Linked DNA regions of Homo sapiens: region 1 is linked to region 2. The links come from fine-mapping of genetic effects on gene expression. A gene starts in region 2. The other region holds a variant in brackets. All regions are shown on one strand. Distances are between the middles of the regions.

Region 1 (4,502 bases), 72 kb after region 2:
GGAAAGACCGGGAGGCTGTCCCCGTGGTCTCACCGGCCCTGTGCATGGTGACCTGGGCCTCCAGGGGAGTGGCCGGGTGCCCTGTTGGATGTCCTGTAGCGAATTTGTCTCTGGGAGAAGAGCAGAGAGATGAAGGCCTCCATGCCACAGCCCAGGCCGTGCACATTTGTGTTGACCTTGGCCACAGGCCGACGGCGCGTCTGCGAGGTCTCTGCATTGCAAGGCCCTTCTCCTCCTGAACTGAAGGCCTTCTTCCTCCTTTCCCCTCCTGATTCTCTCGCCCTCCTGGTGCATCCAGGTGCCCGTGATCCTGTTCCCGTCCTCGGCGTCCGGGGCTCCGTTCTTTCCACCTGGCGTGTCGTTCCCTGAGCTGGAAGCTCCTGCCTGGGTCCTGTCCTCCTGCTGTTCCTCATCCAAAGTTTCATGGACACCAAGACAGGCAGTGCCCTCCACCATAAGCTGGGGAGCCCTTGGGCCCTGGTGTCACCACATCTTCTCAGAGACCTCCACCTTCCTGGCTTCTCCCTCTTCTTCCTTCCGACGTCTTTGTCCTGCAGACAGCCTGGGTCTTGCTCTGGGTGAGGCATCCTGGAGCTGAGACCTTGAGGCCTGACCTAGTGGTGCCCCTTGGCACGGCCCGTTCCTGACAACACAGTGGTGTCACAGGATTGATTCTAACGCCTCATGCTCCCTAACAGTGAAAGTGACAGTCAACTGGGCCTGTAGCGTGTTCAGAGGAGCTGGTGAGGAACCCCCTGGAGCCCCGGAAAGCTGGATCTAGTGCAGCCCCGCACAGCCCTGGTGGAGGCCAGCTCTGCCGTTTGCCGTGTGCCCTGGGGTGCATGCTGTCTGAGGGTGCACCCTGTGCATGACATGGTGGCAGCCCCCACCCTCCCATGTGGAGGGAACAATAGCAGTGAAGACCCAGGAGCCACCGGCTTCCAGGAGGAGGCCCTGGTCTTTCTTCAGAGCAACTTCGAGGTGCGACCCAGGATACACTTTGGGAAATGCTGGCCGATGGGCAGCCCCGGCCTCTGGTGGAAGTACACGTCCCTCATCCCAATATAAGTGCGTGCCACCTCCTTGTGCGGATGCCCAGGTGTTCACTTCCCTGTCCATGGAGCATACATGAAGCACCTACTGAGTGCAGGGGCACCACAGGTGTTGGGCAGAAGGGGCAGCTCGAGGGCTTTGGGGCCGGGGAGGGACAGGAGGTGCTCGCTCTCATCCTTCCTTGAGTGGGGCTCTCTCAAAAGCTGGGTTCAAGGGTGATGCCTCCCTTGTCCATTGTAGGCCTAATGGAGGATTCGGGGCAGCAGGACCCAGAGAAGTTGTCCCTGGCCATGAGCTTGGCCCTGAGCTCTGTGAGTGGCTCTGCCCTCCCTGCTTGTCCAGGTGCCTCCCGCATCCCAAGCTCAGGGCAGCCCGGGTCTTTCAGTTCAGTGCTGAAGAGAGTGGCTTCCATGTGTGCCCGCCCTCTCTTCGGAAGGCCGCCTCTGCTCTGAGTGTGCGGTGTGGGCCCTTGCTCTTTAAACGGTTGCGGCGATGGGTGGGTGAGCATGTGTGGGGGCCACAAGCTGAGTGTGGGGTTCGAGAGTGACCCAGGTCGGTCCTACCACCTGGAGCTTGCAGACGGGAGCCCCAGGTGAGAGTGGGGTTCCTCCCAACTAGGGGGCAGTGGGAGGTGCTGGCCGAGTCTGTCTCCCATGAGGGCCAGGCCCAGGTGACTGTTGATGGTGAGAGGGGTGTGGCCGCTCTCCCGAGAGCCCACAGTCAGTGGATCAGGGGCGAATGTCTCAGCCTTGAAGGTGCCTAAGGACCTTGCTCGGCT[G/A]TGGTTGAAAACCTTCTGCAGGCCAAGCAAATGGGAGCTGCAGCAGGGAGATTAGGCAGCCTGCGGGCCACGGGATGGGCTGCAACAGGGAACCTGGGGTCTGCTCCTGGGAACACCTTCCTGGGCTGCCCCCACCCGGCCGATTGGACCCAGGTGGCGGCTCTAACCCGTCCTGCCCACCGTGTGGGCCTGAGGTGCGTGAACAGGATCCAGGTCCATGGCCGCTGACTGTGTTCTTCCCGTGCATTCCTTGCCACTAACCCTCCCACCCCAGACCCCTCCACCTGAGTTCTCAGCCCTAAGGGCCCGTGTGTCTCTGCCCCCAGAGCCAGGCACGGGGCCAGCACCCAGAGTTTGTGGCCCTCTTTGGCTACTGATTCATATGTCTGGGACTGGGTTCTGGTCAAGGGGACTTCCTGAGAAGCCAGTGGCGGTTAGCTTCCAGCTTCGGGGTCCCTTCTTGCACGGACCTCTGCAACACCCTGCACCCAAGTTTTGTGAGGCCCACCATCCTCTGGGCCTGGGACTTGAGGCATCCCAGCCTCTTCCCACCACCATGTGGGGCGTTAATCATAGGGTTGACATTCTCCCCGCTGCACACAACAGGACGTCCACTTCTGAAGCTGTCAAAAGAGCTGCGTATGATTCAGGGCAAAATGGAATTCTCAGAATCCCCAGAATTCACTGGGGAGAACAATGAAATGAAGGAGAAATATAATCCAGCAAAGACCCTGCTAGCCCCCTGGGGGTTCTGGCAGAGCCGGGGTCCCTGCCCCAGCTTGCACCCCAGGAGTCACGTGGAGGAAGCGAGCAGTGCCTCCTTCATGCTTTCTGACTGCTCTGGCCAGAACCCCACTGCAGTAGATGAGAAACTGCTGCAGAGCCCAGGAAGGAGATCCTGCCCTGGGCTGGCCCCCAGCTTTCTCCAACCGCCACCCACAAAACTGGTTGTGCCTAGATGCTCCCAGGGGTTGTGAGGTCATTGCCCAGATGTGTGTCGGCCAGGCCTGTGGTCGCTAGTTGGTAACTGTCCAAGGGGGGTAACTGGACCATCTCCTGCAGGAGCTGCTGCACTGTGCCTGGTCCCAGGTAGGAATTCAGGCCTTGCCAGGGCACCAAGGGACCCACTGTGGGACCAGCGACCTGGCTGCCTGCATAGGTGGCAGAAGATTTCAGTAGAAACAGCACCAAGCAATGCCAGGACCCCTGGGCCAGGTCAGGATTAGGAAAGCAAATTGGACCTGTTAGAAAACTCCGGGGCCAGCAGGAAAGCGGGGAGCCTGCCCTGTGTCAGCCAAATGGTTAAAGGAGAAGAGTAGAATCCAGGGGAAATCAAGCCGTCAAGTCGTTAATTGACTTTGCCTCAATCAGCCTGATGCATATTCATGAGGCGCCAGCCCTCCCCAGGCCTGTGCAGCAGTGTGCTCCCCTCTGTCTGAGCTGCTGTGACATGGTGGCTCCCGCCTCCGCCTGCCTGCAGTCAGCCTTGATTGGCCCAGCCGCTCTCTTGAAAATGCCATAGCAACCCCTGGCTGGTTGCCTAGCAATTCCTCCCTTTTCCCTTTTCCTCCCCTAAAGCCCAAGCGAGTAGTCCACAGGCTTCTGGTGGAACATGTCTCTGTGCCATGGCAAGTGCCTGTGTGTGTGTGTGCGCACTCATGTGCGTGAGAGGACAGATCCGGAAGGGAACACTTCCTGCCAGCAGCGTCTCAAAGACTTGGGAGTGCACCTGCTGCCTGTCTCGGTACCAGCTCACCTGCTCAGGGGTAGGGGACATGGGGGCATAGACCCCTGGCCCTGGCAGGGCATCCTGTGCTGCTCACTTCATTATCACCAACCAGGATCCCCAAACCTGAGTCACTGGGGAGCCGTGGCCGCCATCAGCATGGTGGGATGGAGGGTTGGCTTTCAGCCCTCCCAGGTTCCTTGATTCTGAAGCAAAGATGACTTTGATGCTCAGGCCCCAGCCAGCGGAAGGACAACAGGCTTCTGCCATTCCATGGACCAATGTGGGTCCAAAGGGTCTACCATTCTGCACAGGGCCAACTTCAGGGCAGCTGTCCGGGGCTGCAGATGCTCCCTCACAGGCCAGGTGGGGCTTTCAGCTGTGACAAAGTCTGGATGTCCACCCCTGGTGAAGCCACTAGGAGGCTGTGGGGGAGCCGAGGGTAGTGTCCAGGAGCCATTGAGTCCATCTCAAGGCTCTCTCTCCTCTTGGATAGTGTGTGCCCGTGTGCATGTGTGTGCCTGAGCATATATAGGGTGCCCTCAGAGAGTGCATTGGGTGATGATGACTGATGTGGGCAGTCTTTTCTTTGATCAATGGAAGCAAAATCATTTATGGCCCACGCTGAGCTTCCTTCTCTGGTTTCCTGTTAAACACAGCAAATGTGTGTCTCCAATAAAAAGCTACACAGCAACTTAATCTCTGATCGATTGCGAGGAAAGGAAAATAAAACCCTGCTCCCTGGGGATGGGCAGCCTCTAGGCAGTTGTTCCTGATATAGAATGTGGGCAATAAATGCATTAAATATAAATGGAGTGACGGAGAAGAGCGATAAACCCTGGTTCCTCCACGCTAATTGAAAACCACGTCAAGGGTTGATGAATGTAGAGGTCCTCTGGGGCAGCGGGAGGCCCTGAATCTGTTTGTGCTGGGCGCTCACCCTTC
Region 2 (4,000 bases):
GGCCCCCACTGTCTGCTTCAAGCCCTTGGATCCCCGGGGGTCAGGGTTGGGCCCCCTCCTCCCGCCACCCTGCAGTGCCCGTGGGCATGGGCGAGGAGGGCTGCTGTGGAGACGCCTCCATGGGGCTTCAGGGTAGTCCCATGGGAGAGGCATTTCTGCCCCCAGCAGCCCTTCCGAAAAGGGGCCCTCACAGGAAAAGTGGGTACCTGCCGGCCAGAAGCACCTCCCACAGAAGGGCCTCCCCAGTGCCCTGTGGGGCCAGGGAGGCAAAGCAGGCCTGGTGTTGGGTCGACAGAGCCGTTGGGGGCCCACCCCCTACCCATGATCAGACCCGGGGCCCCGCAGGGGCAGCCGGTACCTGGGGAACCACTTGGCATGCTCCGTCCAGGGGTCGTCCCCGCGCTTCCAGCTCTGCAGGCCCCCATAGCAGAAGAAGCACCTCACCTTGTCCTGATGGCCTGGGGTGCGGAGAGATGCTGGCCCCAGCCAAGTCCCACCCAGTCCCCGGGCCCCCGGTGTGTCCTTCCAAGGCTATGAGAGCTTCAGCTGGAGGGGAGCTCCCAGGTGGCAAGAAGGAGGAGGGGGTGGGCAGGGGGCTTGGTGGGGGATGTCACTTGTACCTCATTAGCATCAAAGGTGAAAAGGGGACAAGGGTGACTGGGGTGCCGGCCAGGATGGGCGAGAATGTTCAGGAAAGGACTGAGCTGGCATTTGCATTGTTCCCAGAGTGAGCAGTGGGGGCCCCCCAGGGCTTGGTACATCTATAGCCCTGGGGCTTCAGGAGCCAGAAGGGCCCCTCCCCAGGTCTCTGCTTCCCCAAGATGGATTCCCAGTGAGAAGAAGAAGGGAGGCTGCCCTAGAAGGCCAGTCTGGGGCCAGGCTTGCTTTTAGGAACTCATGCCTCCCTTTGGGGGTGGGGGACCCGTCATCTCTCTACCTCCTGGCGACCCCGTCCCCTCATCGGCATCCATGCGATACGTCACCTGCCACTGACATCACAGGTTTGGGCTGCATCGGGCACTGGACCTCTACCAGCCCCAAAGACCCCGGCTCTGCACCTGCCATGCCTCTTGCCTGGCCTTTGCCTCCTGAGCCTTGGACTTCCAGGGAGGTGGGTGAGCTGGGCCTGCCCCTTCACGCCACGGCTTCTGACTGTCCCAGCCACTGTCCCCCCGACCAGCTGTCTTAAGTTGGTCCAGCCTTACCAGGATGGTGCCCCGCCAGAGCCCACTGCTGACAATGACCATGGCTGTGCCAGTATTTGTAAAGCCCTCGGTGGGCCCTGCTGCCCTGTCCTTCAGCCAGGAAGTGGCAGAGCTGGGACCTGAACTCAGGTCTGACCACATGGTCTGCAGCTGTAGGGCAGAGGAGCAGGCCCGGGCCAAGACTAGGATAGGTACTCCGGGGACTTGATTCAGTTGGGGAAGACCAGACAGTAGCTGCAGGTTGGGGCCTGGAGAAATTCCCCACAGGCTGAGCATCCAGGACCTTCTGGCTGACCACTGCCTGCCTTGGTCACCCTGATCCTGTTCTTTAAACATCTCCTCTCCCTGTGCAGAACAGCAGCGGGGAAGGTGAGGGCCCCAGGCAATGTCAGCCCCACCCACTTCTATCACAAAGGGGTACTTGTGCACCAAGCTGGCGGCCTCCACAGCTGAGACCCTCAGACTGTGGCCAGAGGCAGCCCCTCCTCACATCCCACGGTCTGAAACACTCAGCCAGCAGAGACTCCGGGGGAGGGTGTCAGGCACGAGCCCATGGGCACTGGAGGGGCTTGCAGGACCACTGCTCCGTCATCAGGCCAGACCCTTCCTGTTGGGGGATGGATGCTACGGAGGAGGCAGAGCCCTGGGCTGGAAGGGTCCAGAATCGTGCCCAGGCCCACGGCAGGAAGGCCCCCCCGCCCGGGACTGACCTGTGTGGAAGAAGCCGGCAGCAGCCAGCAGCTCGGGTGGCACCTCAGCAGTCAGCGGCCAGTCATAGAAGGAGGCCAGACGCAACTCCTCAGAGCCCATGCCGGGGAAGGCAGGCCCCCTGGACAAGGTGGCCCCGGCGCCCTCCTCCTCTTCCTCCTCTGTCAGGGGCCGCAGCTGGCCCAGGATCTGCCCATCCACGTGGTCCCAGGCTCTGCAGGTGTCCAGGCCTAGGACAGGGCTGCCCAGAGAGCGGGGTCCACAGCGCTCCTGCGTGGGACCATCACCGGCTGCCCAGTGGCTCGGCTGTGGTCCACGGTGCAGGCACTTGGCACTGTCTTTAGGTCCCATGGAGGGAACACTGGCTCTGACCAGGTTTGCAGCAGAAATGGGGGCTGATGGCCAATCTCAGAATATGCCCAGCTGGCCCTTCTGGAGCTCCTGACCCCCGGGGCCCACCCTGGGGACAGCAGGGATAGGCACAGGCCTGCCACCAGACACCCTGGGAGGGGAGTATCCCAGGGCCCACAGCTTTCTGGAAGTGGCCAGGGTGGCCTCTGGGGTCACATGCTCTGTGCAGCGGGGGCGTGTCACGGGGCCCCTGGCAGGGTTGCGGATGCCGCTGACTGCACGTGGGCAGGCCACGTCTCTCTGAACAAGACGGGAAGGAACTGAGCATGGAGACCCCTCCCCAGGCTGGTGTCTGCCCCAGGGCTGTGGGGGAGGGGTTGGGGAGCTGGAGATGATGGCTCCAAGGTCAGGCGCCCAGGGCAGCCTCCGGAAGCAGAGAAGGCTCAAGGAAGGACATGTGAGCTGTGCTGCCTGTGCAGGCAGGGGCCGTGACCTCCCACCTTGCGGGGGTGACTCTAGCCTCACAGGGGCCTAGGGCTGCGTCACGCAGAGCAGGGAGGCAGGTCACCCGGCTGTTCTCTGAAACATCCCTCTGCCCCAAGGGGCCTCTGCAGGTCTGGGAGCAGCTCTTGTCCTCAGGCCAGGAAGATCAGAGCAAAAAGAAGGGCCCGAGCTGCCCTCACCTCCCGCTCCCCCTTCCCCCATCTCCCTCCACCTCCCTCCATACCAGCCTCCCCAGGTAGCCAAGGGAGAGGCTCTGATGCCCCCAAAAGAGGAGTACTCAGTGTTGGCACTGGAATCGGAGTTCCTGAGGTCTGCTGTGACCCTGGCTGCCGGTCCAAGCTCCACACTGTGCCACACTGCCAAACCCCACAGTGAGGGAACAGGGAGGAGGACTTAACCCCAGAGAAGCCAGGGGCAGAACAGGAACCCCAGGGACACCTGGGCGGGACAAAAAGGACAGCTGGATGGGGCCCAGACTTCGACACCCCCCAACCCCCGACTGAGCCCTCAACCCCAGCAAACCCAGCTCATCCACCCGGCTGGCCCTAAAAGCCCCCTGTCATCCTTCAGCCACTCTCCCCTGCTGTTCCGTCCTGGATGGGAGCGTGCAGGCTCACAGAGTTTGGAAGAATAAAGAGGAGTCGCACGCTGCAGGGCCGCTGGTTGCCACGGGGAGCGCAGGTGGGCAGGAGAGGGTTAGCTGCAGTGAAAACCGTCCCTGAGCTCACCTGGAAGCCTGGCCCGTTCTCTTCCCACTGCTGAGCCGCATAGACCCAGCTGCTGCCCACCACACTTTCACACCTGCCCCCCGACCCCCACTCACGGCGGGGGCTGGGGCTGCACCCGCCCTCCCAGGAGGCCTCTGGTGACTGTTCTGGTCATACTCAGGCCAGTGTTGCCAGGCCCCAGCGAGACCCCCAACCCTTTCCTATGCAAGGCCCAGAGCCACCTGGTTTCCTGCAGAAATCAAAGTGAAGGGTGTGGCTGGAAACCCCTCCCAGGCTCTTAAGGCCTCTGGGGTGTCTGCAGGCCCTGCTGAGGATAGAGCCCAGAAGCCAGGGCTGCAGGGCGCAGAGGGAGAGGCAGCAGGAAGCTCAGGGGCATAGGAGGGGAGGGCTGTCGGGAAAGGGCCTGAGGGCCAGCAAAGGAGTTAGGCTAGACACAAGGTAGAACTTCCCAGTGTGTTTTCTGGGATGATCTCAGGGTACCTCGCCTTCGCCCCCTCTCTGTCC

Evidence for each region. PIP is the estimated chance that this variant, and not a neighbour inherited with it, causes the effect.
Region 1: its variant is the best candidate, but not a certain one, in a credible set for the expression of BIRC7 in whole blood (INTERVAL, PIP 0.79).

The regions. Positions count from the first base shown.
Region 1 is chr20:63,162,599-63,167,100 of GRCh38, reverse strand. It overlaps LOC124904952 (a long non-coding RNA gene), which reads left to right. Exons shown (of 2, transcript XR_007067715.1): 2 at 1-4,251. Among named protein-coding and RNA genes, the nearest start is that of MIR124-3, 14 kb to the left of the region's middle. RefSeq lists a silencer at 1-33. The variant G/A (reference allele first, on the strand shown) is at 1,832.
Region 2 is chr20:63,234,361-63,238,360 of GRCh38, reverse strand. It overlaps BIRC7 (baculoviral IAP repeat containing 7), which reads right to left and starts at 2,456. Exons shown (of 7, transcript NM_139317.3): 1 at 1,916-2,456; 2 at 359-458. The coding sequence starts at 2,264. RefSeq lists enhancers at 2,572-2,691, 3,039-3,640.